7 separate regions of the Homo sapiens genome follow, and all the other regions are linked to region 1. The links come from fine-mapping of genetic effects on gene expression. A gene starts in region 1. Each other region holds a variant in brackets. All regions are shown on one strand. Distances are between the middles of the regions.

Region 1 (4,080 bases):
GCTGCTGCCAGACGCCCCCCAATAGGTTTCCCAAGCCGAGCTCCTTTGCAAGCCTATTTTGGGGGCAAGCAGCCAACCCGGCGTCCCCCAAATCTCAAGCTAGCACCCCCACACATCCCCCGTCTCCTACAGCGTGTCTCCTGCGGTGTTTACATAACTGTGTGTCCTCTAGCGTGTAAACAAAAGGCACAGCCCAAGCGGAGAGGCGCCCCTGAAGCAGCACCGTGGCCCCAACGCTGTGCCCGCCCGGGCCTGGGGCTCCGCAGGTGGGGGCTGAGCTCTCGGCGTCCTCCGCCACTTGTTGCTCCCGGGTCCTGCAGCTCTGGAGCTGCAAGGAGGGGCTTTGCAGGCTCAGAGCCCTGCTGCATCCCCTCCTGCATCGCCGCTCGCACCCCGCGGCCCCGTGCCACTCGGTCCCGGCGCCCGCCTGGAGCCTGCAGCAGGGGCCAGAGGACGCCGCGCGGCTGCCAAGCGCGGCGAGGTGGCGGGAAGGGAGGCTGGGTGCAGCACAGCCGGCCTCTCCGCTGAGGAAGAGCTCCGGCTCCCTTTTGTTAGCAAAAGCAAACACTGCCCTCTTCTTTCCCGACCGCGCCAACGCGCCCGGCACACGGGCAGCCACACATCGGGCTCCAGCCGAGTGCTCGGTGTCTTCAGGGAAGGCACCGGGCGTGCAGAGCCGCCCCTGGGCAAATTCCCAAGACTGCTCTTCACGCAGGGAGCGCGCGGAGGCCCGCAGGGTGCCCGCCTGGCCGCAGAGGCCGCGACGCCCCCTCCGCCACCCTCGGGCCGCCGAAAGAACGGGCAGCCGGGAAATCCCGTGTCCCCACTCGTGGCAGAGGACGCTGTGGGGCGGGCGGGCTGCGGGCTCCCGGCGCCTTCCCGCAGAGGCGGCGACAGCGGCCGCCCCCCCCGCGGGGCCGGGCCGGGGAACTTTCCCCGCCTGGAGCCGGGCCAAAAAGACCCGCAGCAGAGCCGAGGGGGCGGAGGGCTGCGAACGGCCGGAGGGAAACACGAGAGGCGTGCAGTTTGGGGACAGGGGAGAAAGGCAGAGCGCGTTGGGGGAAGGGGCAGGGGAGATCAGACAAGTCTGGGGATGTCCTGGGGACCGGGGAGAAATCACGCCGCGGGCGGCTGGGAGTCAGCCACCAGGAGGCTTCGGGGATGGAGAACTGGGGGGGCCCTCTGGAGAGGTGGGGGCGAATGGACAGCCCTGGGAGGTGGGAGGACCTGCAAGTTACGGGGAGAACGGCGAGTTTAGAAGGGTCCGGAAGGGTTGAGGTTGTCTTTGAACCATCCCCTTCCCCCATGCTTTACAGCCCCCGGGCCCCCCATTCTCACTCCACTCTGCACCCCGCGCCAAGCCGGGGAGAGAAGGTGTGGGTGCAGCCATCCCTGGGGACTCTCATTCACACTTAGCCGGGCAGGGGAGAAGGGGCTCACAGATGCCCTCAGCCCCTTCCCTCTCAGCCCTGAGTTTCCTCTCCACACTCCCTCCGCTTCGGATGTAGGAAGTGGGGGGAGGTTGTCATGGAAACGTTTCCCCCCTCTGTGGCCAAGGCTACTGGGGTGCCTTCGGAGATTTAGGGGCCAACCGGTCGGTGCCCACACCTACCTGTGGGGATCAGTGCCGCGGCGGAGAAGAGCAACAGCAGAAGCCGGAGCCGGAGCCCGGGAGGCGCCGCCGCCGCCGCTGCCGCCGCACACTGGGATCCGCTCGGCAGCACTACACTCGCCATGTCGGGCACCTGCCTCAGACTGGCGGCGTTGGCTGCCTCCGGAGCCCGAGCGGACAGCTAATGAGATGCTAATGACATGCGCTGGAGGCGGAGTCCGGGCAGACCAATCACAGCGCCGCGAGCCCAACCCGGCTCTCGGAGGGCCTCGCTCCCTCCCCCACCCCGCCCCCTGGCGCTGGCGTTCGGCGGCGCGCCCGCGCCACCTAGGGGCGGGGCCAAGGGGAGGGGCGTATGCAAATATGTTTATGTTAAAATTCGGGTTTTGCTTTCCCCGGATCAAGGAAAAAGTGTTCTCCCGGGCGCCTGGCGTGCAAGGACTCGGGCTCCAGGGGGCGGGTCTAGCTTCTTGTACACCTTTATTAGGAATGTTTATAGCAATCGCTGTATCAGACCGACGACTGGAGAATCTCCCTTAAGAGGGTCCTCTGTCCCGCACACCGAGTGCATCTGGCCTAGCGAACCAGACGTTGCAAATTTCCGTCACTCACCTTGCACCGAAGGAATAGATCTTTGGGAACGGGGGCTGTGCGGGAGTGGAGAGTAAGAAGGCAGGTCCCCGGATTGACAAAACAATCTGGGAGAAGTGCATGCGTGCTTTGCACGTCCGGCGGAGCGGGAGAGCCCGCTCAACAGCCTAGCGGTAGACTCGGGGATAGTTGGAGAAGGCAGCCGTAGAGTCGGGTTCTGAGATTTTCCAGTCGGTCTTTTTGCGGCAGAATCTCGGGAAAGGTAGATCGAGGAGGGTATGCTCAGGCTCCTCCGCTTGTCGAGGGTCTCCTCCCTGGTTTTAATATATAGGTGTGTGTTGAATATATGTGTGAAATATTTGTAATATTAGATATTTAAGATTACACAACAACGGAAAAAATTAGTCAAGGCTTCAGGTGAAGAGCGGGGGTGGTGGGAGTTGGGGAGAGGGAGTGTGGTGAAGGCAGGGTCTGCCGTGTTCCTCCTTCGGGGCTCAAACCCTCTCACTCCTCCTCTGCGCCCCCAGCCCTTCCTAAGGAAGCTGGGGACCAACAGGTGCTCCGAGCTTCCCCTGTCTCTGGGAGAGCCTCTCCTGCTAAAGCGACTTGCATCTCCGGACTCACTCTCCCTCCCCGAAATTCTCTTTGCTTTCTTTTCAGCCAGGCAGCCGGCTCTCTTGTTTGTCTGCTTTTTAATTACTTATTTTCTTCCCCTCTAGAAGATCGTGTGCGCTCTGACCCTCTGTTGCTCAAGCATCAAATTGAAGGACGAGCCATATTAAGTGTAAAGGTTTATAATAATTTAAGTATTCATAGAATGCAGAACAATAAGATGTAGGAAATACAATTTGCATAATAAATATCAATATCACAACAGCTAAAACAAACCATGACAAATTATCTGTGGCTAAATGACCAAGAGATTACTGAATGTAAATTGCTAAGTCTGAGCTATAGTCTAGAAGAGCTGCGCCAAATGACTTCCCCAGCCTTCTGTCCTCATCTTGCTATAAAATAAATAAATAATACATATCAAAAAGGAAGTCATGATCTGCCAACCCACCAAATGAGTTACACTTAAAAACAGCCTCCTATTATCCATTATGCATAAACTAATTTCGAGACTGCCCGGTCTTCACAGCCCTGGATATTCTGCTCTGTAATTACAGGCCCCGATGCATGAACTGCAGGCAGTCCTTCAGAAGTGGGGAAAGCTCCAACAGGAGAACAGCACTACAGGAGACAGGAAACCATTGCCACGTGGGTGCCAGGATAATGCCCAGTCTGCAAAGTCCTACCCGTTCTTACTACCTCTGGCAGTGAGGTACCTGGGTCGGACCAAATAGAGAGCAAAGTTCCACCAAAATTGGAATAAAAAAGTTAAGGCCAGCCGGGCACGCTGACTGATGCCTGTAATCCCAGCACTTTGGGAGGTTGAGGCAGATGGATCACCTGAGGTCAGGAGTTCGAGATCAACCTGGCCAACACGGCGAAACTCCGTCTCTAATAAAAATACAAAAATTAGCCAGGCGTGATGACACACACCTGTAATCCCAGCTACTCAGGAGGCTCAGGCAGGAGGATCACTTGAACCCAGGAGGCGGAGGTTGCAGTGAGCTGAGATCGCATCATTGCACTCCAGCCTGGGCGACAAGAGTGAAACTCCGTCTCAAAAAAAAAAAAGTAAGGCCATATGTATGCTGAAAGTGATATGTAAACTATAAAGGCAGGTCCTATATGGCAAGAATCCTGACACAGAGCCTGGCACATAGTAACATTATTATCTGCCGTTACTATTATTACTACTCTTGCATTCACTGAATTCTTAAGTATTCTACATGCAAAATCTCATTTAATACTTGAAACAATCCCCAAGG
Region 2 (4,094 bases), 150 kb after region 1:
TAGGTTTAAGGTCATAATAGTGGTTCCTACATCACAGGGTTGCCATGAGGAGTTAACGAATATTACAAGTATAACTGTTCGTCATTTCCTTCTCTGCGCTCAGGGGAGATGCTATCTGAATGATCCCTGCCCCTTTTTTCTATCCTGATCACCAAGTCCCTAGCACCTTGCTCTGTAAAGTTTTGACCAGCTTGGTACAGGTACCAGTTCCTAGAAAATGCTGCCGCTAAGATCTAGACATGCCCTGCTCCAAATAGTTTTCCTGGCTAGGTCTGATGGCTCACACCTGTAATCTTAGCACTTTGGGAGGCCAAGGCAGGAGGATCGCTTGGGGCCAGGAGTTTGAGACCAGCCTGGGCAATATAGCCAGACCATGTCTCTACAAAAACATGAAAAAAAAAAAAAAAAGCCAGGTATGGTGGTACAAGCCTGTAATCCCAGCTACTTGGGAGGCTAGGATGAGAGGCTCTCTTGAGTCCAGGAGTTCAAGGATGCAGCGAACTATGATTGCGCCACTGTACTCCAGCCTGGGTAACAGAGTGAGACTCCCTCCCCACCATCAAAAAAAAAAAAAAAAAAAAGGTGTTTTTAGGTGTATAGTGCCGTAGCGTTAAGTACATTCATATTGTTGTGCAACCATCACCACCATCCGTTTCCAGAACTCTTCATCTTGCAAAACTAAAATTCTGTACCCATGAAATACCAACTCCCCATTATTCCCTTCCTCCAGCTCCTGGCAAATGCCATTCTACTTTCTATCTCTGAATTTGATTACTGTAGGTACCTCATATAAGTGGAATGTTTGTCTATCGGTGACTGGCTTATTTCTTTAGCACAAGTTCCTCCAGTTTCATCCATGTTGTAGCATGTGTCAGAATATCCTTCCTCTTTAAGGCTGAATAATATTACATTGTATGTTATTTACCACATTTTGCTTATCCAGGCATCTGTGGATGGAGACATAGGTAAAGTTTTAAGCTCCACGTTGGTGTAGCTTTCCTTTCCTTCCTTTCCACAGGTAATGTGGAATTGACTAACTGTTTATCCATTCACGTGTTGTTACATTCAGTGAGGGCTCATATAGCATCTCTAGTTTACCAAGCTCTGTGATAAGCTTTGTAGATGATGAGAGAAATAAAACAGTACTCCTGCTCTCAAAATGCTCTCAGACCTAGCGGGGAGCTAGTTCTTTAATTAGGGCTCAGTGAGGGCTGTGTAGAGGAGGGGTGGTGGATTTCTACGGCAGGGATGATGGGGGTGTGTACCAGGAAAGACTTCACAGGAGGTGACATTTGAGCTGTGTCCTGACAGATGAGTAGGTGTTTGCCAGGCCAAGAGGCCTGGGTAGGGCCTTCCATGTAGGGGAGCAGTCCAGGTGGGAGGGAGCAGTGTGGAAGGAGGGTGAGATAGCAGGGTCCCTGGACAGGCTGCAGGCAGTGCTAGTGACTGGGGCACAGTGGGGGACAAGGCACAGAGATACATGAGGCTCCTGGAGCAGGAGGGGGCCAGATTAGTGCAGGGTCCTGTTTACCACACAAGGAGCTGGATGCTATAAAGGAACCAGTGCTGGAGAAGCCTCATGGTGACGTTTCCAGGGAAAGACAATTGAAACCATGTAATATGGTTTGGCTGTGTCCCCACCCGAATCTCATCTCGAATTGCAATCCGAATTGTAACCTCCATGTGTTGGGGGAAGGAACTGGTGGGAGGTGATCGGATCACGGGGCAGTTTCCCCCATGCTGTTCTCGTGATAGTGAGTTTTCACGAGAGCTGATGGTTTCATAAGTGACAGTTTCCACACTCTCTCACCTCATGTAAGAGGTGCCTGCTTCCTCTTCCACCATGGTTATAAGTTTCCTGAGGTCTCCCCAGCCATGCGGAACTCTGAGTCAATTAAACCTCTTTTCCTTATAAATTACCCAGTCTTGGGCATTTCTTTATAGCACTGTGAAAATGGACTAATACACCATGCTAGGTGTTCTCCTGCATGGAAGGGCTAGTGATCCATAAATGGAGGATTAAGGAGAATTAACTGGGTCCCTTGCTTAGGCCTAAGTGAGACGATCTTAGAGGTGCCTGTTGTGTTACTGGGGGCTGGTGTTAGTGTCAGTGGTAAGGAAATGGATACCTAAGGAATACCGCCCAGCTGCACTCTCAAAAACTCACAAGCTCAAAAATGCCCATTCTGGACCAAAGTAGCTAACAGAGTCAGCTCCAGGTTTCAATTTTGGAGGAAACAGGAAATCCATTGAATTGGAAATATTGTCAGACTGAACAATTAGAGGCAAGCTGGGACTATCAGAAATTTACTGAAGAGAAGAGGGAAACTTGGAGTTGAGTCAGAATACCTGATTCAGATCCTGTTTCTCTTAGTCACCAGCTATGTGACATATGAAAAATTGCTTGACTT[C/G]TCTGAACCTGTTACCTCATCTGTAAAAGAGGGATGACAAGACCCACTTTACTTATTTTTCATTAGGAACTCAGGAATAATCCAAATAAATGAGATAGTGTGGGTGATTACAACTGTGAGGCATCGTTACTGCATCATTGCCCTGAGCCCCCTTGCCTGGCACAAATGAGGGTCTGCACTGGACATGAAAGGTGGGGTGGCTTGCAGAACATAGTCAGGGGAGCATGAAGGGAGGTGAAGGAGTCGAGCTAGGACTTCTGCAGCACAGATGTGGGTGAAAAATCCCCTATCCTTGGGTGTCGGTAGCAGAAATGTACTCAGAGGCTGCTCTGGGATGTGCTGGTAACAGGGCCTGGACTGAGACCCCGTGGTTGTGTCAGTGTCGACTTTAGGTGACTCTTCCCCCTTACCTGAGGATGCTGCTGCCTAGGATCTCTCTCTGTGGACAGACGTAGCTGAGGTCACTGAGAGTTAGTGCCATGCCAGCTGGTCCCAGGAACAGAGCACCAAATCCGAATTCAGGAAGGAAAGCCCAATTCCAAGTCCTGGCACTGTACCAGTTTCCTTACCTGTGACTCTGAAATTATACCTTCCTTATCTGGTGGGCATTACACGTGAAAGTGCTTTTTAAACTGTAAAGAGCTGAAGAAATGCCATTTCTTGTATTGCCCTTCCCCTATCAGGCAGCTAAAAGACGGTGCTGTCTTCACACACACACACATGGTAGCGGTTCTCACCAATTCTGGGTCTATGGGGCCCGCCCATCCACCCAGCCTCGGCCGCCCAGGACGCCTGTAAAAGCTAAGAATACATTATAAAACTGCTGTAAGGTTTTATGAGTCCTCTTTCCCAGTGACCGATCTTGGCGCTGTGAGTCATACCAGCATTCGTATATGGGACTTGGAGCGTGGGGCCGGGACTAGGAGAACAGCTGGGACAGGGAGAGGTAGCTTCAAGGGAGCCAGTGGAGTGGCAGGATTGTGTGGCCTCAAAAGGGTTCAGCTCGGGGTGACCTTGGCTGACTCTTCTGCCGCCTCGATTGGGCCATTTGGTTTGATCCCAGAGATGGGAAGGAAAAAGAAAGAGTGGGGAGCGGGGACAAGATGCAGTGGTACAGCACAGAAGTTTGGAGTCAAACAGGCCTCAGCATGGGTCTCACCTCCTCCACTTTCTAGCTGTGTGGCTAGGGCAGGCCATGCAGTGTCTTTAGTCTTAATTTTATCATCTGCAAAATGAGGCCAATAATAGTGTGTATGGTTGTTCATATGAAATAATGGATGTAAAGCGCTTAGCAAGGTGTCTGGAAGAAAGTGATCAATATTACATTAAAATATAATACTTATTTTTTTGATGGTTAATAATTTAAATTTCAAATATTATTTTTATGCAGTGATTAGTACTTTGTAGTGTCCAATAAATATTTTCTGAATAAATAAGTGAAAGGATGAATGAATGAACAAATGCACAAACTGAAAGAGCTGAAAAAGAGGAAAACAAAGGAAAGAAAAGAAAACCTTGCTTGAACATCACCTTCTCTACAAAACTCTCTCTGGCTTTTATTTTCATCACCCGCAAATTGAGAGTTAGAGATTAGTTTATCTTCAAGGTCTCTCCCAGCCCTCATATCTGAAGACTCTTGATTCACTACTTAATTCATGCCTTGACCGAATATTTATTGAGCAT
Region 3 (4,094 bases), 250 kb after region 1:
GGAAAGGATCTTAGGGATCAGCTGATCTCCTACCTTTCAGTGTTTGTATCTTTAACTGGGAAACTTCCCTGTATAAAAAATCTTATGTGGAACTCTTCATTATAAAACAGTGGAGTTGCTCTTGTTGAAAAATGCTGAGGGCCAAGGGCCAGGGTCTCTCCATGTGAGTCCCCTACTGTATCTGCCAGAGCACCTGAGGGTGTGTTTGTGCCTTAGGGTCTCAGCAGAGCCCATTGGAAATCACTGATTTAGCCTGCAAACCTTATTATCTGGATGAGGGAACTGCTGTCCTGAGAGGTGACATCACATGATAGATCCTGGACCCAGCATGTTTAATCTGGGGGCTCCTCCCAGCAGAGCATGGCACCCCTTGCTCTGACCATCATGCTTTTTGGCTTCCCTCACCTGACTCTGATTCCCACTGAGCTGTGTGGTGGCCACCACTGCCTCCTATTTGGATGCAGAAGGTCAGTTTCTCTGCAGACAGACCAGCCCTTTCAGGGCCACTCTCCCGTGCACTCGGGCCCTGTAGCACCTCCCACCTCATCCTTCCTAGGGACTGAAGCCCAAAGCCTCTTACAAAACTGTCTTCTGAGGGCCCCTTGGCTGTCCTGTTTGTAAAACCATTCACAGTCAGCCATGCCTTTCATTTCCTTAATCTTAAATTGCATCAAAAAGGGAGAGATTAGAGGTAAAACCTCAATAAAGGACTGAACAAAAGCCTGCCCCCACTTCGGATTCTCACACCTAGCTTTGCCTTTTTCCCCTCCCTCTTCTCTGACAGACTGAGTGTATGAACCTTTTTTTTTTTTTTTAACTTAGATTAAAACGCTATTTAGAAAAGGCCCGCAAGTTTGAAGTCACCTCTGGTTCATACATTAAACATCAAATGTACATTAACTGTGAATTATGGTCATGAAAAGTAAATCCTTTAATGCCGTTTTCTGTGTTCCACTGCTGAAGCTTAGCATTAATGGCCTCTTTGCAACTCTGTGAATAGATGGACTTCTTATTTTCTAGCTTTCACCACCACACAGGCTTCTCTCTGTGCACCTGTAAACACACAGCCATGGGAAAAAGATTGAAGGGAAGTTTAAGCTCAGAAGCAGATCCACCTGGGTGGCAGGGGCCATTTATCCCCAATGGGCAGGTGGCCACACCTAGTGTAGGACCACACTATTTGTTCTTTCATAGACCCGGCTAGGATCAGCTTAATCGTTTGCTACATTAAGTTCTGAGGAATTGCAGTTATATAGGTGTCTAACTGGTAACTAGATCAAGCTATTGATCAGCAACCCTGACAATGGAGAAACAGGTTTTCACATGAAGAGTTTCTCTAAAAGGCAGGTTCGGAAGCCAGCTCCTGGGAAATGGTAAAGAATGACCACCACTGGGTTGTGGCATGGAAGCCATGCTCTTGTGTTACTGAATGATCTGACTTCTTTCTGCTGTACCAGGATAAGAAGCAAAGAGAAAGAGTGATAGATATCCAAAATGTTTACTCTCATGAGAAGGACCTTTCTCCATTAAAACTGTGGGAGCTCTCCCACAGTGGAGTAAGATGCAAACTACCTGCAGAGGCTTTTGCTACAATCTGATCTAAAGCCCGGGAGGCCAGAAACATGCCGCAGTTGTGGACAAGCCTTAGCAGGTTTTGAGACAAAATGAGGAGAGTCAGAATGAATTACTTCTCCTCCAA[A/G]CTGGGTTAAGAGACAAGATTAGATAAAGTAGAGATAATGATAGAAAACGATTTAAAAAGGCATTGAATTGCCTTTCAGTGTTTATGAACCTTTAAAGCTTGCACTAAATTACACAAGTTATTTAAATACATTCTTTAATATTTATGCTTTGTTGTTTTAATAAAGACTTCTATTTTTAAATAAAAATGCATAATTAAGTGGAACAGAATATTTTCCTCTTTGACGTGCTTAATCATGCCTCTGGGAAGCTTAAGTTGTTCTGATTATAAAGTCCAGACACTACCATCTACTAAAGAGCAGCCTGCACTCAGTAGGTGCTTAATGAATATTTAATGATCAACTATTATGTGCCTGACCCTGTGTTAAGTTCTGGGACTACAATGGAGAGAGATGAAAAGGACATGGTCTCTGCACTAATGGAGCTTGTAATACAATGAGGGTGTCAGACATTCGTTCTACAAATGAGTGTAAGCTTCCAAAATGGATCAGTATTAGGAGAAATGGAAGCCCTGTCTGATGAGAGGGTATTACAAAGGAACTTAAACTGGTTGGAAAGAAGGAGAGATCGGGAAGGCTTTCCTGAGGATGTAAGGGTTGGGTGGGATCTGAGGGTTAAGTAGGGGATTGCTGGATAGAAAGAGAGAGGAAGAGTATCCCAGGTTGAGCAAATAGTAAGAGCAAAAGCCAGTGGGAGGAGGGAACATGGTGTATTTGGGGGTACCCAAAAGAAGGCAGGCAACTGGTTTGGCCAGCACAGGCTGTGCTGTGGACCAGGGGGGCACAGCTGGGCTGAGGAAGCAGAGTAGGAGCTGAAATCCAGCCCTGCTTTTCTTGCCAAGTGAGATCGCCCATGAGACACTGCATCAGCTTAGAGGAAAGGGCATCATTTTTCCAACTGGGCTGTCCAGAAGGGGCACCTTTATCTAATTCTCTGCAGAGTGACCCACGTGCTAACATGACCCTGGTGGCTGCAGTATATCAGGGGAGAGGGAGAGTGAGGCCAGGGAAGGCTGGAAAGGCATCCAGGGCCAAACACGCAGGACGGGGAGCCTGTGTTAAGGATATGAGCCTTTCTCCTGAGGACGAAGAGGAGCCAATGAAGGGTTTTAAGTGTGTATGTGTGTGATGAACAGATTTGCATTTTGAAAAGATCACTTGGGTTGCAGTGTGGAAAACTGATTAGAGGAGTATCAGAATGGAAGCGGGGTATGGTTTTGGGCAAAAGATCATGAGTATGATCTTGGACTACGGAGTTTGATGCATCTTGCAAGCATCCTAGTAGAAACGTCAAGTGGGCAGTGAACACAGACAAATTGGATGTATAGTACTTAGTTTCTTAGTTTTCAGTTGTCATACCCCCAGGTGTTGCCCCAGGGCATGCAGCAACTTAATCTGTGGGTCAATAGGGAAAGAGGAGGAAGCTAACTACAGGCAGGTCGGGTACTGGTGGTGTTCACCCTGGTGCTAACGCTGTTTCTCAAGTGATGGTGTCCGGTCCAAATCAGTGTCCCAGTGAACTCAGGAAAGCTGATAGATTCAGTTCGGTGAATGGATAACTCCAGCAAAGCTGATGGTTGCTATTAGGTTGGTGGTGACACATTGCTTCTCCTGGTGCAGGTAGTGGCAGAGCTTTAGACATTTCAGAGATGATTCTAGCCAGGGACCAGGGGTGGGTTGAACATTAAATATTCATCAAGATAAAGTTCTATTTATTTGGAAGAAAGACTGACATTGGACACATAAGCTGGAAAGTTCTAAAAGAGATAGATATGTAGATCAGGGCAACAGCGCTGGAAGAGAATTAGAGTGCAACTCTAGAACTAGACAGAAGGCAGCCATGGTCACTAGGAAGACAAGGTGAGCACTGGTGAGAAAGGTTAATCTCAGTGGGCCTCTAAAAGCTTCATGAGGCTTAGTCCTGGGCCCACTGTGTACCCAGCTTAAGGAAGCAAGGCCAATTTTAGACCTTCCACTGAAGATGGGGCTGGGCCCCAAATAAGTTACTAGGATTGGTCAAGACAGGAACAGGAACTGGGCAAATCTGAATCTGTAATTTGGTCTGCAGTACCTATAGGTGGGCAGGACTAGAGATGGCAGGGGTTCACAGCAATAAGATTAGCAACTTTTTGAACATAAACCTATAAATTGTAATAAGCAGTGTTTCGGCCGGGCGTGGTGACTCATGCCTGTAATCCCAGCTCTTTGAGAGGCTGAGGCAGGCAGATCACGAGGTCAAGAGATCAAGACCATCCTAGCCAACATGGTGAAACCCCATCTCTACTAAAAATACAAAAATTAGCTGGGTGTGGTGATGCACGCCTGTAGTCCCAGCTACTCGGGAGGCTGAGGCAGGAGAATCATTTGAACTAGGGAAGTGGAGTTTGCAGTGAGCCA
Region 4 (4,094 bases), 730 kb after region 1:
GACCTCTTTTACTAAAAGAAGCGTGTAAAATAACCTCAGTTTCATTAGCAACTCAAAATATACTACTCGGTGTGCTACATATGTTTAAGTGAAATGTGGAGGGTCAATTTGCTATGTAAATTTCCACAAATTTGGCTAAACTAAAACGATTAACCTAATGTGTATGCAAATTAACTTAATTGATAACGACTTTTCTCCAGGAGCTTTAAAAGAGGGGGAAATATATTCCAATTCTAACAATCCTCCAAAGTGTTCCATCACCCAATAACAAAATGATATCTTGACAAATTAAAGAGAATATAATGAAATCAGATTAATTAATGCCAAGACCAATTAGCATATGCAAAGAAACAAATCTCACTAATAGACAAATCCAGCAATTTGAATGAGATTTTTGAAAGCTTTTCCTATTTGTCAATTTGTGTGTGTGTGTGTGTGTGTGTGTGTGTGTGTGTGTGTGTGTGCGCGAGCGCGTAATTCCATCTTTGAAATGTTGTTCCCTTTTGTTTAGGATCTAGAATGTCAGACCTGGAAGGGTCCCTATAGTCTGAAACCCCCTACTTCAACTGATTAAGAAACTGAGCCTCAAAAAAAGGTGAATTTATCTGGCAAGGTGCCACTGACACCCTGGCAGCACAGCCCTTTCGTAGCACCCTGCCTGCCAGCAACACCCACTGATGCCTGGAGGCGGGGAAAGCATTCTTGAAGGCCCTTTCAGCTCTGGGACTACCTGATCCTATAGTCTACATTGGAATGTTTACCATATTAGAATGCCGTCTACATTAGAATATACCTATATATTTAAGAATTGAAGGGATTTTCATCTTGAGTCTCTTTTCCTTGACTCGGGCCACATTTTTCACACCAAAAGCAATCAGCAAAGCAAGCGGCAGAGCCTCAGCTCCCGAGGAGAGTCGTTTTCCCAACCCTGCTCCACATTGGACTCCCCTTGAGCTCCTATGCAGTTAGCGGTGAATTCTCCAGGCTAATCACTGGGCTGTGAGAGTTTCAGCCCACCTGTGCTCACCCCCTCCACCCTCAGCTAAGGACTCTGGGCTAACAGGCAGAGCTCTGACTTGGGTTTTTATTTTTATTTATTTTTTCTTGTTATTCCAGATGGTTGCTGAGAGACTGAAGTCTCGGTTGCTTCCAGTGGGACCCTCAGACAATGGCAACTGGAAGGAGAGGCAACCCTGGATGGCACTTGGGCAGCAGAGAGCAGTCAGACCCCAGCGATGGCAGCAGAGGCAATAGGAACAACACAAACAGAGCCCACTGGACTCATTCCATGGACTCTGGCCTGGGGGTTGCCTCTTTTAGGCCTTTAGGTGCAGCTCTTGCCTGGATCTAAACAGGACTATAGTATGGAAAGCTGGAAGAATAAGAGCAGGAGAAACAGACTCTGCTTGGGGAGTCAGGAGACAGACCTCCAGGCCACTGACCTTGGCCAAGCCATTTCTCCTCTCTGGCTCTTAGTTTTCTCATCTGTAAAACCACGAAATGAGGATATAAGCTAATAATCCTTTCTGGCTCCGTCTCTTAAGTCTCAGCCTTCTGGGTATAGTTTTAGCCTCTAGAATAGCATCGACCCCATGGAGTTGAAAGGGTTAATGAATAAATACATGTGAAGTGCTTAGAATGGTACGTGCCACTTAGTAAGTGGTCAATAAATATTAGCCCATAGTTTTTATCCTG[T/C]CAGGCGGTCCTTCACCCCCTCTTAAACACTTCAGTGGTATAGAAGGCGACAACAATGGTATGTGGATAAATGTTTACCAACCGGTCGAGTGAGGGTGGGTCTCTGCTTTGCAGTGTTTGCCGATTACCATGGTGTAAATAATCCCACTATGGCTTGTTTGAAACTGCCAACATGAAGTAAAACAGCTCATGAAATTCCTGAAAATGTAACAACTGGTTTTTGAAAACCAGGGCTAGCCAGCTCCAGAGTGCCACTGACATGCAACACCCTTCCATTCTCCATTCTCATTCTATTTAAACAAATGTCTCACTGTTGCACCTCTTGCATATAGAGAGAGACTAGATGCTAATTAAATATAAAGTACTTGTGACTATCCTCCCACATAACACTCTTTTGGGACACCACAAATTTCTTCCCCATCTACCCACTCCCACCTCCTTCCCCCAGCCCTTCAAGCAGAACAGTCTGTGTATACTTTGGAAACATAAACTCACATTATCATTAATCTAAGCCAAGCATCATTGAGAAAGTAAATCTGCTGCAAAGGAACATTTATTCATGTTTAAATTTTGATGATGTGTATATTAATCACTGATGGGCATTACCCCCTTCATGTACCCTTTAGCGTGCCAACTTGTCCTCATTCTCTCTGTCCTCTGCTTTGACCCCAGCCTCCATTCTGATGGCCATGGCCTATCTTGGGATTGCTTTACCTACATCCTGAACTTGACATTCCTCCTGCTCTCAGAAAGTTGGTTATTTACCGACTGAAAATGGAGAGTGAAAAGAAGAAAAATAAAACACCTTTCCCAGTGGAGCCCATAAAAGGCTCATGAAGTCATAAAGACAATTACTGGCAGGCCTATATGGAATACCCTCCGTGAGTCATCTGTCTTCTGCTGGCAATAAAGGCACATAGCAAATTAACCATGAGGGAGGCCCGCTCACTTACCCTGTAATTAGACGGAGCTGCAAGATGCTTCCTTTCAAACTTCACGTGGGAGGATCTGTTTTGGCTCCAGGAGGACCTGCCTGCTAGCCCAGCCAGGCCTGGGCTCTTCCTTTGGCTACTGCCCCTACAGCGCTGAGCCTGGAGCTATGAGACAGTGACAAGGCAGCAGCAGCAACACAGTCCCGCCCCTCAAGGCCCATGCGGTCTGTTTAGAGAGGTAGGCAGTGCATAAAGAAGCAGAGGTGATCATAAGGTTCTCAGACTAGCAGAGAGGCCTTTCTTTCCCACTTCATCTTTCACCACTTGCTGTCATGCACTCTGTGCTCTAGCCACATTGAACAGGCTCTTTCTCAAGTTCCTCATCTGCCTTCTGGCCTCCATACCTTTGCACATGCTGTTCCCTCTGCCTGGAATGTTCCTATCCCTACAAGATCTTGACTTGCAGAGACATAGTGCAAATTACATTTGCACTAAGCAATGTAAATAAAATGACACCTTCCTGACAAGTCTCTAAGAAGATTAACTAGCTTCCCTCTCCCTGCAAAACTTTGTGCAAAATTTCTACTTAGCACTTATCACATTGATTCTAAACACTTGTCTCACAATCTTTTTCCTCTGGATTTCGACTTTGAGGCAGGGCAAAGATTAACTCATCATGGAATTCCATTCCCCATCCCACCTCCATGTCTAGCGTCTAGCTCTGTGTACTTATAAAGTAAGTTCTCAATAAATATGAGTTGGAGGAATAAAATACAAAGAAATAGAATCTAAATCTAGTATAATCTGGATCTGCGATGAATTCAGAAGGAGTAAGGGCTGGATGTAGCTCCTTAACCAAGTCTCAGTCCCAGGGAAGGTAATGGAATTCCAGGACTGATCCCCCTGCATTTGGCAGGGGCAGTTCCCATCCCTTCCCCAGAGGAGATGAGAAGGGGTCAGGGTGACAAAGCCCGGTGTGTCAGAACATCGCTTGAGAGGTTTAGCTCCTGGAGAGCAGTTAGGCATGTAAATTAGCACCGGCCCACAGGCCCTATGCTGAAAATAAATCTGCTGGAACCAAGATCAATCAATGGTTAAAAATAAAAGTTGAGGCAGTGCTAATTCTGTGTTTTCCTGAGCCCAGTGCGTAGGCAGCCAGAAACTTCTTTCCCAGGACACTGTTGAGTGAGCAAAGGGCAAGAGATCATGGGAAAAATTAGACAGCTTACAAGTCTATGCCTGGGATCTGAATCAGTGGCCCCTTTGGGGCAGGGAGGAGTGGATAGAAGAGCTGCATCAGATGCAAGATGCCAGATGAGGATTTTCACGCTGGGGAAAATCATCCTTTTGAAATTCCTGTTACCAAAGCCTGTCCCAAGCTTCCTACAGGACGAGGGAGGAAATCAGAGCAGGGCCTTTCAGTTATGCAATACATATTTATTGATTTATTTATTTAGAGACAGGGTC
Region 5 (4,000 bases), 320 kb before region 1:
CTCCTCAGCCAAAAGTGTTGCCAACTGCAGATGCTACAACCCCCATTGTCTTGAAAGTCATTTCAACAAGGCAGAACTCGGTCAAGGGATTTTTTTTTTTTTCCTTTTTAGAGACGACAAAGCTCGTTGAAGGGGAGCATTCCCCGTGGGGTGCTGCTGGACACGGGGTGTCTGCTGGAGGAGAGCGCTTGACACACTGGAGATGTTCAGTCCAACTGCACAGATGCAAAATTGCTCATGGGGGACAAAAGTAACAGAAAAGCCAGCAAGTTGTGTTTTCCTTAGGGAGCTGTCAAAATAGGGAATCTTGGGGGAATGAGAATTAACTCATCTCCAATGGCCATGAGCTTCAGACCTATTAAAATTTATGTGTCTTTCGATGAACTCTGTATGTTTTAAAATTGGGGGAGGAAAACAAGTGAGACTAGACATTGAGGACAGGGGAAAGTTAGGCACAAGAGGCAAGAGGTGAAGAGAGGTTCCAGGAAGACTGAGAACAGAGAGAAGCTTCGAGAAGCTGTCCAGGACAGTTCTAACCCATCTAGGGGAAGACACTATCTTGTCCACTCTTAATAAAAGACCGCCTCCTCTCCATGCCTAGACACAGGAATATTCTGGAAGCCTGAGGGGGGAGGGGGGAGGGGAGAGACAGAGAGAGGCTCTGTGACAAAGAAAAACAAAAACCTCCCTCAAACAAAAAGATCTCACGAGGTATATGTATCTGTGAGATTAATTTCTTGAGCCGAAACTCCTTACTTGACCTTTGCCCTCCATGAACTTTGAGCTAAATATGCTCAGTGTTGCTATTTTTCCCTGCACTTTGCCCAAATTAAACTAGAACCTTAGATGTTCTAGTTATCTTCCCCACCCTCAAGGACATACATATTTTACAGATACTTATTTATAAGGGTAATCTCTCCAGCTATCTTCTGATACCCACTTTGATCAGAAAGTTTACTACCACCAGTTAATCACCAAGACATTTCTCCTGCCTTCAATTACTGCAGATGGACACAGAAGGTAACTGATGTTTAATTTACAGGGAACACTGCCGGTTACGAGCGCCTCACCGCCTCTTCCCACCCCCACTCCCACCTCCTGGGTTTACGTGGGAGGTGTTAATAGAGTTGTGCCTGTTCACTGAGTGCCTCTGTCTTGGCCTTCCCTATGAAAAGCAGAGCTGTTTCTGGAGTCATCTCAGTCCGTTCTTTTATTTCCACGTGTGGGGAGGGTGGGGGAGTGTTTATAATGCCATGGATTGGCTCAAGGCAGCAGGGCCGGGGTGAGCTGCCTGCACCTGCGGGCTGTGCCTCACTCATGACATGAAGCAGCCGTGCAAGATGCTGCCCAGGGGGGAACTGGGCTACTGGAGTCGCACGAAAACCAGAAATGGAAGGAAATACCGAGCACTAAGAGAAGCATGGCTGCGACAAAGTCTGTCAGCTGCTTGACCTTTCCTTCCATTCCCAAGGCAAGGACTCTAACCAATTCCATGAGAAATGACTTCTAAGTGGGAAAGCTATGGGTTTCCCCATGAGCCACAGATCCTGGTCCTGCAGGGTGCAGACCCCTTCTTCAGGTCCCATGAAGTGCTGGCTTTCCTGGGGACATTCTCTTCAGATTCCCGGCTCATTTTCTGAATCGGGCAGGCAACGAAACCAGAGGCAGATTCTACAGCTGCCCCTAGCTTGTCAATTGAAAAATAAATGTGGGAGTGGAAAGCACTTTTAAACATGCCTGATGCTCAGGCAT[A/G]TGGACATCACTTCGGTTTAGAAAGCCATGTTTTCTTGTTCCCTAAGAGGCTACAAGTGTTCCTCTTACTAGTAACAAGTGTAAGAGTGTTTCTTTTCTGGGACTAAGCCCTGCCCCATCATCCTGAAAAGTAAAGCCATGTTTTTGCTTGGTGAATGGTTCCAGCATAAAGGTTATTCCAGCCTCAGTGAACCAAGCATGATTGCATAACACAGTTCAACTGGAGTTAAGAATCTCATCCAAATTATTTCACATGTGACCTCAGGTGAATTAGGCCTAGTCCTTGAATGATTCTGACTTGCAGATGAACCCTGTAAAGGTTATTGTGTATCGCTGTGTCACCCTTCACTCCTCCTCAGAGGTAGAAAGCTTGGTGTCCTTTTGGCAAAAAGACTGACCTTGGACTCTGTAGTCGAGGGCTTCAGGGCGGGCAGGCAGCAGTTGCAGGGAGGTGTTCCTGACAGCTCACAGTTGTGGTACAACCCTCCCTGCCTGTCGTGTCCCATCCCGCAGCCACTTCCATGGCTCTAAGTGTGACAGATAAATCATGAGGTGTTTAGTATTCGTGAGTTAGCTTTTCTTTTGGCAAAAAGCTGAAACAACTTGGCTCCAGGTGAGAGTTTACCAGCTGCTTGCAGAATGTTAAGTTGGCCACTACTGCTTGGGTCACAGCTTCAACAACCCTGGGCTCGCTTTAGCATCTTAGAAATTGCGGGACAGAGAAATCTCAAAGAAACTCCCAAGAGTGATGCCCCAAACTGCTCAGATTTCTTTACCTTGGGCCAGTTGACCTGGCCCGATCCATTCCTCATGGGCAATAAGAAGGGGAAGTTCTAAAGGCAGTAGTTCCCCAGGGCGTGACAAGAAAGGTGACTGCTAGTGGAACTTCAGTCTCCTTTCCCCTCCTTCTAGGAGACTTTTCTTTCTCTACTTGTTTTCATTCCTCAAACTCCTTGCCAGAGTCGTCTTAAACGCAGCACTCTGGCAGCCATGCTGCCTGTATTAAACAGGGCTCTGCAAGAGATCCTGGTTTCTATGGCTACTTTACCACCTGGCATGAGATGTGTAGCATAAACCGCCATGCAAATGCCATAATCATGGATCTGTGATAAGCCTAGAAGGCTCTGCTGCCAAAGTGGGGATCCATGGATAACTGGAGAGTGGCTAGTACATCCTAGACAAGCTCCTGGCAAATAGGGACTTTGGCAGAAGGACTCACTGAGCAGAACCTTCACTGCAACTGCTGCCTGCCCACCCTGAAGCCCTCGGCTACACAGAGTCCAAGGTCAGTCTTTTTGCCAAAAGGACACCAAGATTTCTACCTCTGAGAAGGAGTGAAGGGTGACACAATGATACACAATAAAGTATGCAGCATGAGGCATGACAGCCACATTGCACTGGGTCACCCTCACATCTCAAACATCCCTGGCTCAGGCTGTAAGGCACATTTAGCAACATGGCGCTTAAACGCACACTTTAACTCTTTTCATAGGTCATAAACTACCTCAGCTCTCATTTTTACGTTTAAGCCATGGGGAGGTTCTAACGGTATTAGTCTTCCTACTTCTGTTTAGGGACAGTTCAGATGCTCAGCGTTCTGTGCTTCCCCCATCCGTGGATGACTGGAGGAAAAGAATTGTTGCGGACTTTTTTGCAACAGTTCTGTCACGTGGCTCAGTTTTAGTTCCTTTCCTGGGTGGAGATCTTGCTGGACAAGTCAGTTTAATTACAAACTCTCAGAATCGGTGTTTGTAATGGAAATGCTGCCTCCAGCTTCCTAGGGTTGTAGGGATTAGTCTATTTCAGAGAAAGCTTAGTGACTATGATGTCATTTGTTACTTCTTGCTAGGAAGAAAGAAAAAGCCTGGTAGTGGATTTCCCAAATCTGAAGCAAAACCATAATCTGACCTAAAAAAAAAATGACACTTAAGAAAACCTGGCACCATCTGAAAAATGTAGCTACCCATTCTCATCATCTATTGTAGCTCCCGTCCATGGCAACAAAAATAAGTGTGCATTTTAAAAAGCACAACTTTATTACTGAAGGGGAACAAACTGAATGGCATGCGCTGACAAAATGCCACATTATTTGCTAATCCTAATATGTTATTCTTCTTTAAGATTTGCTTTTCTCAGCACCAATTCAATTATAGATGCTACAAATCCTTCTGACATTTAATTCCCTCTTGTCAGAGAGTAGTAAATGTATACAGTACATGCACAGCTTTCCCATTAAGATGTTAATATA
Region 6 (4,000 bases), 300 kb before region 1:
GATTAGCTTTAGTCTGGAGTGAAGGATTAAGAGCTGTGAACTGAAGCGACTCTGCTGAGTTGCTGAGATTGATTGTGAGGGGGAGGAGTTCAGCGAGTGCTAAGAAAGGTCTTAAAAAAAAAAAGCATAAGCTAGTGAGAAGGCCAGCCGCAAATGAAAAGTGTTGTTCCATATAAAAGAGAAATGTGGTTGTTTATATACCACGTGAATAAGGTCTCGACTGCCTTAAAATGTAAACCTGGATAGCTACCTAACTGGCACCTTCTAGAATGAGTGGTAATAAATGCTGGCTCATACCTGGGCAAGTTCTGCGAAGATAAAATAGACTGGTGATATATTTTCTTAAAGGGTTAATATATGTAGGGCAATGGAGAATTACGCAGTATATTTTACACTAGTATCTAAAGGGCACTTCACAAGAGTACGAGTCTAATTTGGCTTACGAACTGGGTAGCAGGCAAGAAATGTGAAAAGGTAAAAACCTAGTTCTTAGTATGAAAAGCTGATAGCACAGTTACTCTGGAAATCAGAGTTAGGAAGAAGCATCTTTGATATGCTGGTGAATAGTATAGAAAATGGAAAGAATCAATTCACTAGGTCAACAAACTGAGTTTACTTAAGTTTACAGAAGGAAGTAACAAAGAGCCAAAACAGAAACACACACAGACAAGAATCTAGGAAGCAGCCTGGTTGGAGCTGAGTTTAGAGTGAGACATGAAAACCAACTGATGGATTTTCAGAAGATTTTAAATTAAGTGCTGGCACTGATGGTTTTGTAACCAATGTTGAGAAGCACTGGCTTCCTTAAGGGTTCTTTTTTCCACTGTAATGGGTAGAAAAGTGAAGAAAACTGAGATTAGACAATCTGTTGTATATTCTATCAACTGATGAGGCCTCCTCTTTCTTTGAACACTCTGAATTTTCATCATCTCTATCTTACTGACTCCCATGAAAATTGGAAATGTCTCTAGCATGTCAATGAAAAGGACAGCAATGATATCTAGGGTGTTAAAAGGAGCTGACCATGAAGGGTGGGGAGTCAAATACTCAGTGTTCATAAAGAAGTCCAGAGACAGGGGTGGGTACCAGGGCACACGGTTCAGATACCTTGCAGTCTCACCAGCTAACAAAATGCAGCGGAAAAGTTACTCTTTCAAGAGATATTTTTTTCTCACAGAATAATTACTTTCACATGTTTTTGTGTTAAGTCCCTGTAAACACAGGTTGGGAAGGCCTTATCTAGGGAAATCCTTCATGTCAAGTGGACATAGTGTGGCCAGAAGCTTTCCTACTTAGGTAGGCAGAAGAAACCCCATGGCTCCCAGACAAGCCACATCAAGCAGTATGAGAGAGCCACTGGATGCCAGGAAGGGCTGGATGGCATGCCACCTCCCTCAGTGACAGAAACAAGAGACAGTAAAACTCATGCTGAATAAGAGTTTCAGACAGTCCAAAAAGATAAAGCCGCAGAGTTAGAACCACAGTGGCTGCCTCTTCCACTCTTCCAATATGTGACCGAGGGCAGGGAGGGGCACATGAGTGCTCAGCATGGAAAAGACAGTGACTCCCTCTGATCTCTTGTGACTACCTAGGCAACACAAACAGGTAGTATCACTTGTCAGCGGGTACTCTCTGGAGCAGGAAGGATGACTATGCATTTAGTAGCATGGCCCAAATAGGCACATTGAAGTTAGGTGTGTATATTTTCCCTTACATGGACTGAGATGAAACTAAGACAGAGACAAGATTGAAAGCCACAGTACTTACCATTTCATCAAACATGTCTAAGCAGAAGCTATAGGCGTGTTCTCTAGTAGCCAGCTGCCATTTTCCCTAGCATTTTGCTTT[C/G]AATAGTGATGCTTAAAAAAGAATTCTTTTATGCATAAGCTGCAAAATATCTGACGTACTGTTAAATGCTGGGATGTTTCTGAGGTCCTTAAGATTCAACTTAAGAACATAGTATCTAATGTCGTTGGAGTTCCAAAATAAAGGAACGATTAAATTCCAAGGATTTAAAGGGAACTTTTCGGCTTCTTTTTATACATACCAGAAAGACAATATACATTCAGGACATTTTCAATGGTAATGAAGATACCATACCTGTGATGATGGTAAGGATGGTGGTGGTGGTGGTGGTGGTGGTGGTGGTGGTTGTTGTGGGAGGAGGGATAGTTGTGGGGGGATCTGGATAGAAAAAAAAAGGAAAATCAAACCCACAATGCTGAACACAACAATGACCAGTAATGACAAAACAAAGGCATGAGGACATTGAGATGTTTGTTTGATGGCTTCCCCCTTTAAAACCAAAAGTTCTTTCCCTGCAAGATTTATGTCTTGTAATTATATCCCAAAGCCTTAGTTGGAAGAGCTGAGAAAAGAAGAAAAGAGAATTTTCATTAATGAAGTGAATTAGGGATGAGGAGATGTGAAGAGAGGGGAGGAAAAATCAAAACATACGACACCCCTCTTCCCTACCAGATTTCAAAGGTGAGGTTAAATCAACTCAGTACCAAGAGGGTACAATGGTTGTCATTTCGTTTCAGCTTTTACAGATGGCAGGAAGGAGGAGGAGGAGGTGGTGCTGCTCTATTAGGGGGCTCATATCAGCCAAGGATGAGCGTGCCCCTGCACACTTGCTCTCTGTGACTGTTAACTTCATTATTCTCCATCAATACAACCCAGCAGGAAGTAAAACTACTTCTCTACTCATAATAAATACAAAGAAGAGAGAATGTCACCACTAAATATCAAGTTCCAGGCATGTGAGATTTTACTGAGATTTTATTCTTTAAAAGTCAATAAATTTTACAACTTATAAATATTAATAAGTTGCCTTTGCTCATATTAAAAGCTTGACCTAAGTAGACTACAGTGATAAAACTGAAAGAACGTTTTCCATCTTGTAAACAAGAGAACTAAATATAAATGAGACTCGACCTTCAAAGCCAGGAACCTGATAGGGAACCCTCTGTCAGATATTTGATATACTGTATATTCTTCTATCATCTCAAAAATTATTTGGAGACAAGGGAGGGGCAAATATGAAAGAGAAAAAAAAATTCTAAGCCCAAATGATCAAACTGAATGTGTTAAATTGTCAGCAAGACTTTGAACTAAGCAATCATTCTGCTATAATAGAGCATAAGACGATTTGAAAGCTTTTGATTTTAAATTTTATCTAAAGCATGTCAACTTTTTCTCCCTGACACATCTGGTGTCCTTTTATCTTCAAGTGAGCTCTCAGATTGTCTAATTAATACATCAAAACTTTAATTATATACTGCACCTTTATTGGGTTTGGTGCAACTTCCCAAAAGTTTATAGAAATATTATTTTGGTGCTTGGTTGCAAAGTCTACTTAAAATGATATCTACCATCGATCAACAATCTGAGCTTTTAATTTTCCTCACAAATTGCTTCTCTCACACAAACACACTTGGATGAAATTAACAGAGAAGAATCAACTGTTCTGTTCAATGGGAGGCTCCGTTCCTTTAAGATGGGGATACAAGCAGTTTACACTTTCATTTAAAGCAGCCTCACGTGAGTCCAAAAAAGGATGTCGTTTAAAAAAAATCTCATTCTCCTCCAAGAGGTAAAAATGGTTAAGTTAGTGATTTTAAACTACCTTTTTAAAAGAAAGGCAGAATGAGAAATACGGTGATTCAGGCCATGTGTTCAGTCTTGCTCCTTCACACTTTTTATGGAGGCCACAGGTAGGGAAGCATTTTGTGACCTGGAAACTCATTTGGATGCACCTACACACCTGCTGCAGGTGTCAGCATAGATATAAATGAACCAAGTGCACTGACCCCTGAGCCCAGCACTAAAGACGTCCCGCTCCCTCCACTACACAACTAAACTATATCCAGAGAGGTGCCTGCTGCCCAGCACAGGGTCAGTTAATGTGATTTTTCTGTTTTGCTTCAATTACTATATCTACTACTGAAAAGGAACATTTGTTCCTGGGAGATTTCCCCTGATATACTATAATCCTATT
Region 7 (4,092 bases), 330 kb before region 1:
GCTACATGGTGGGACAGGGATCTGAATGCAGGCAGCCTCTCTCTAGTGTGTGCTTTTGATCCTTATTCTATCTCTCTGGGTCTTTTTATAGAGATGCAATGAATGAGTACTCCCTACTGCTCCTTGCCCTCTGGCAGAGGCTGGGAGAGGTCACTGAAGTATCGAGTCCTCTGCCCGGACTTTTCAGTACAGCCACAAGACCCATCCCACCCTGCACACGGAATTGCTTTCTTCTCCCCATACAAATCAGCAGGCTGGCTGGGCTTGTTGCCCTCTGTACTTTTGACTCACATTCCTTCTCCACGAAACCATCCTTTAAGATCCAGCTGGGGTCCCAGCTCTTTGTGAAGCTGTCTAGGGACTCACCAGCCTTCACTGATTACCCTTCTCCAGAAAATTCTCATAGCACTCTCTGGGCTTCTCTGTGTTCAGTGGGGCACCCATGGCTCAGGGTCACTTCAAGTTTTCAGGTGATGTAACTGATGCTCTACTTGGCCTCCAGAGACCGCCTTATACTTCTCTGCATCCCTCACCATGCTGGACATACAGCAGGTGCTCAATAACTGCATATCTGATTTTTTTTTTTTTTTTTTTTTTTTTTTTTTTTTAACAGAGACAGGTAAGAGACCAGGCCAGGATGGAAGTGGCTCAAGGGGAGATGCACAGCCTTCAGTCTTTCTGGAGCTTACCTTTGCTTTTCCTATGGAACTTTCCCCATGACGTGGCCAAGGGAGAAAAGGGGAACTCATCAACCACAGCTGAGGGGATGGTGGGAAAAGGGCACTTTGGGCCTGGCCAGACGTTATCTGCACATTTATAAGATCGGCCACCATGAAGTGTAGTCATTGCTCACTTCAGCCTGCAAGGCAAGGACGATGACAACAGAGCAAATCCTGCTGTCTACCCAGGCCTGGAAGTCTCAGCAACCTAAACAGCAAGTGAGAACAATCTTCTGCAGGCAGCCAAGCCAGTCCTCCACAGCTCACGTCTTCTTTTTATGAAAGGAGAGAGAACTTTCAAGGAAGAAGGCAGAATGAATTGTTAAGACACAAACTCCCAAAGTAAGAGACAGGTGGAGCAGCCAACACAGGGAAGTTGGTGAGGGTGGGGGGGCGGTGAGAGAGGGGATGAGTGCGGAAGACACATCTACGGGAGCGGCCTGTTCCGGCGGGCCCGCCACGACAGCTCGCACACCTGCACAAATCGCTGAGTCCACGTGGGAGCCCAGACTCAGCCACGGCACAGCACTTGGCTCACCTGTCCACTGAGAGTGGGGAAGAGAACAAGGACAGGAAGGATGAGCGGAGAAGGAGAGAGAGCGCGGCCCCCAGCAACCCAGCCGGCAGCATGTCCTAGCATCTACTGCCAGCGTTCCTGGCCCCGTACATGGTCCTAAGGAGGAAGCTGGGACCAGAGGCCCATCTCTTCTCTCACTCGGAGGCGTCCATAAGAAGTCCATAAAGAGATTAAAGGATCACTTTGTAACATTAATTTTTTTTTATTAAGAAGACAGATATTTTATAGTACTTCTTTTTTTTCTTTTTTTTTTTGTAAAAATGGTATACATGAACCAATACAAAATGCGAATGGGAACATATGGATATGGAGTTTCTTACACTGTAACATTGTCCATGTACACCTTAAAAACAGAACTGGCCTAAAGGGAAAAATAAGACGTCGGTGTGACTAAAGAACAAGCTTATTTGGCATCAATTATACATCCTTCATTATTTTATATTCCTTTAAAAAACACAAAAAACAAGTTTGTTCTTTCTTCACTCTAAAAAAAGTGATCAACCTGTACAAAGTAATACTCAACAATACATTTCAAACAGTGCACTGTATACTTAAGAAAAAATACATAAACCAATATACAACTAAAATCCATAATTTCCTGTTTTTGCTTTGTTTTATTATTATTTTTTCCAATGTGTGGGGCCTACACTTTGCAATCTACCTGAGACGGAAAACACCAATCG[C/A]AACACATGAACCTGAGACATGTCAACATTGTAAGCCATAAAGTTACATCAGGAACACTGCACTACTGTACACTTTTCAAAACAGAAAGATGGGAGGTCCCAAAAATGAGATGCCAATTCTGTGAGCAATGGTGTGATTTTTTTTTTTTGTTTTTGTTTTTGTTTTTCTTTTTTTCTAAAAAGAACAACTGAAAAAAAACCTTTCAACAACATGCTAAATGATTCTCACCCTTTGATATGATTATACTATGGTCGGAATGGGTGCTAAGGGCTCGGAATAGAGCTGCAGATTATAAAATTCATTGAAAAAGGGATGTTCATTGTGGCTTTTTGTCTTGGTTAAGTGCCTAGGGATAGGGGAGGGGTAAATAAAATGCTGCTCGATAATGGATTTTCTTTTACATACCAGTCCGTTCCCAAAAGGCCCCCATATTGCAATGGTTCTATCAAAGGTTAAAATAAAGACAAGAAAAATAAACATGTTTTCAAATAACAAAGAGTTGACACTTTTTCCCCCTTAAATAAATCAGCATAAGTTTTCCACATAATGTAACAATAGTAAAAATGCACCTTGCAAAATCCAAAATTACTCACTGAAAATGTAATAGAATATATATTTATATATATATATAGATCTATCTTTTTTGATGCCATCTTTCCATAGGGACTGTTAGCTGGAGTCTGGAGTCTTACCAAACATATGGTAAGAGTTTAGTTTCTGTCCTTCAGGACTACTTCTAGATTTCCTAGACGTTTCAGTGAAAATCCCCACACTTCTTTCTTTAAAACATGTAAATGGTAACGTGACTCCTCTACCTTTTCCCGAGGCTCCCCATCTAAGATATGTTCAAGGTCACTGATTTTAGTAGCTATGCACTATGGCTGCCATCATGCGAGGATCAGTAATTTTTGGCAGATGGTTCTTAAGGCTGAGGAAAGAGGCCAAGGCTAGTGTATGAAAGGTAAAAAGATAAAAACACTCACATTTGAGTTTTGATTAAGTAACTGAAAATCCGTACATGCTGTTTTTCCACCTCTGCTCTGACCTATCGAGAACTGAGAGCGACAGCAGACCAGTGTGAGAACAATACCAGCCCTTCTTTTGTACCTCCTGCCTTTGTCAAGCCAAATCTGAAGGAATGAAAGTTTCACACAGATTCGAGTTGGAAATCCCAGCATGACAAATATCTGTAATATACAGTACATGCAGGCCACATCCTACTGCCTTCCTAACTAAGCACAAAGGAAAAAAAAAAAAAAATCAACTCTGTCCCATTCAGTCATTCGCACAACAGACGAACTTGCTTTTTCCTACAAATTAGTGAGAAGTAAGGCCGATTGGGAAAGGTGGATGGAATCATTTGGAACAGAAACAACCAGAGCAGAACTGTATTTCCCCCCTCCCTACTTCCCCTCCTGTGGCAACTCAAAATTTGTCCACTTATATAAAAGGAACAGACCTCACCTGTCAGGTCTGTTTAGGGCATGGAAAAAGGAGGAGTCCTTTCTGCCCCAAACCTTTCTGGACAGCGTAGGGTATCTATACTGAGCCGTCTACAGATACAGAATTAAAGACAGTGAAATTCAATCTCATTGTGACACACCTCACTTGCAGATAACCCTGTACAGTAATGTAGTTCCACAGCAAACAGAACATTTTCTGAATCACAGTCTAATTTTCTAGTCTTCACTGCTCTAAGTATTTGAAACATGGGCAGCAGCAAAGAGTTTTCATTGTTTGTTCACCCAAATCTTTACGACAACAGAGAAGAATGCATTATGGATACACTAAATTCTGAACTATGAAATCTAAGCTGTGCTGGTTCTCCTTTTATGAAACTGAATTTGGAACAGAAAGCAGTTACCATAAAAATAAACAAAAGTAAAAAACTAGAACAGAAAAGGGAAGGAAAAGAGTCTAAGGAATCCCAGCAGGCAAATTCCAAAATGGGAGATTTTGGAAAAAATCCGAAATTGGGGTAGAGGGAGGAAATAAATGTGCACAAAGGGGGAAAAGAAAGGAACGCAACAAACAAACAAAAAACAAGGCACAGAATTTTCTGCAATCTACTGAAACTAAATCCAAGTATCCAAGTTTGACTTGGTAGGAAGA

Alleles and levels. Alleles are on the strand shown, and positions count from the first base shown. SD is a standard deviation of normalised expression in the study named. Not every link is listed here.
As copies of A replace G in region 3, the expression in unexposed skin of the gene that starts at base 1,757 in region 1 goes up (small effect, 0.27 SD a copy in GTEx).
In carriers of allele G in region 5, the expression in thyroid of the gene that starts at base 1,757 in region 1 tends to be higher than with A alone (large effect, 0.92 SD a copy in GTEx).
In carriers of allele C in region 6, the expression in transverse colon of the gene that starts at base 1,757 in region 1 tends to be higher than with G alone (moderate effect, 0.51 SD a copy in CEDAR).
For the expression in monocytes after LPS of the gene that starts at base 1,757 in region 1, A is the low allele of the variant in region 7 and C is the other (moderate effect, 0.61 SD a copy in Fairfax 2014).

Evidence for each region. PIP is the estimated chance that this variant, and not a neighbour inherited with it, causes the effect.
Region 2: its variant is fine-mapped to the expression of CADM1 in nasal epithelium (TOPMed, PIP above 0.99). The same link has a PIP of 0.9 or more in esophagus mucosa.
Region 3: its variant is fine-mapped to the expression of CADM1 in unexposed skin (GTEx, PIP 0.98).
Region 4: its variant is fine-mapped to the expression of CADM1 in lung (TOPMed, PIP 0.92).
Region 5: its variant is fine-mapped to the expression of CADM1 in thyroid (GTEx, PIP above 0.99).
Region 6: its variant is fine-mapped to the expression of CADM1 in transverse colon (CEDAR, PIP 0.91).
Region 7: its variant is fine-mapped to the expression of CADM1 in monocytes after LPS (Fairfax 2014, PIP 0.95).

Annotation. Positions count from the first base shown.
Region 1 is chr11:115,502,659-115,506,738 of GRCh38, forward strand. CADM1 (cell adhesion molecule 1) reads right to left here and starts at 1,757. Exons shown (of 12, transcript NM_001301043.2): 1 at 1,613-1,757. The coding sequence starts at 1,736. RefSeq lists a silencer at 1,783-1,942.
Region 2 is chr11:115,650,909-115,655,002 of GRCh38, forward strand. No RefSeq gene overlaps it. Among named protein-coding and RNA genes, the nearest start is that of LINC02698, 6.4 kb to the right of the region's middle. The variant C/G (reference allele first, on the strand shown) is at 2,412.
Region 3 is chr11:115,750,855-115,754,948 of GRCh38, forward strand. All of the region lies in intron 2 of LINC02698 (long intergenic non-protein coding RNA 2698), which reads left to right. Among named protein-coding and RNA genes, the nearest start is that of LINC00900, 7.3 kb to the right of the region's middle. The variant A/G (reference allele first, on the strand shown) is at 1,700.
Region 4 is chr11:116,229,976-116,234,069 of GRCh38, forward strand. No RefSeq gene overlaps it. Among named protein-coding and RNA genes, the nearest start is that of LINC02151, 270 kb to the right of the region's middle. The variant T/C (reference allele first, on the strand shown) is at 1,696.
Region 5 is chr11:115,180,539-115,184,538 of GRCh38, forward strand. The region is part of intron 10 of CADM1 (cell adhesion molecule 1); the gene reads right to left. Among named protein-coding and RNA genes, the nearest start is that of CADM1-AS1, 210 kb to the right of the region's middle. The variant A/G (reference allele first, on the strand shown) is at 1,753.
Region 6 is chr11:115,207,474-115,211,473 of GRCh38, forward strand. CADM1 (cell adhesion molecule 1) reads right to left here. Exons shown (of 12, transcript NM_001301043.2): 8 at 2,101-2,184. Among named protein-coding and RNA genes, the nearest start is that of CADM1-AS1, 190 kb to the right of the region's middle. RefSeq lists an enhancer at 1,347-2,546. The variant C/G (reference allele first, on the strand shown) is at 1,849.
Region 7 is chr11:115,172,151-115,176,242 of GRCh38, forward strand. CADM1 (cell adhesion molecule 1) reads right to left here. Exons shown (of 12, transcript NM_001301043.2): 12 at 1-4,092. Among named protein-coding and RNA genes, the nearest start is that of CADM1-AS1, 220 kb to the right of the region's middle. The variant C/A (reference allele first, on the strand shown) is at 1,980.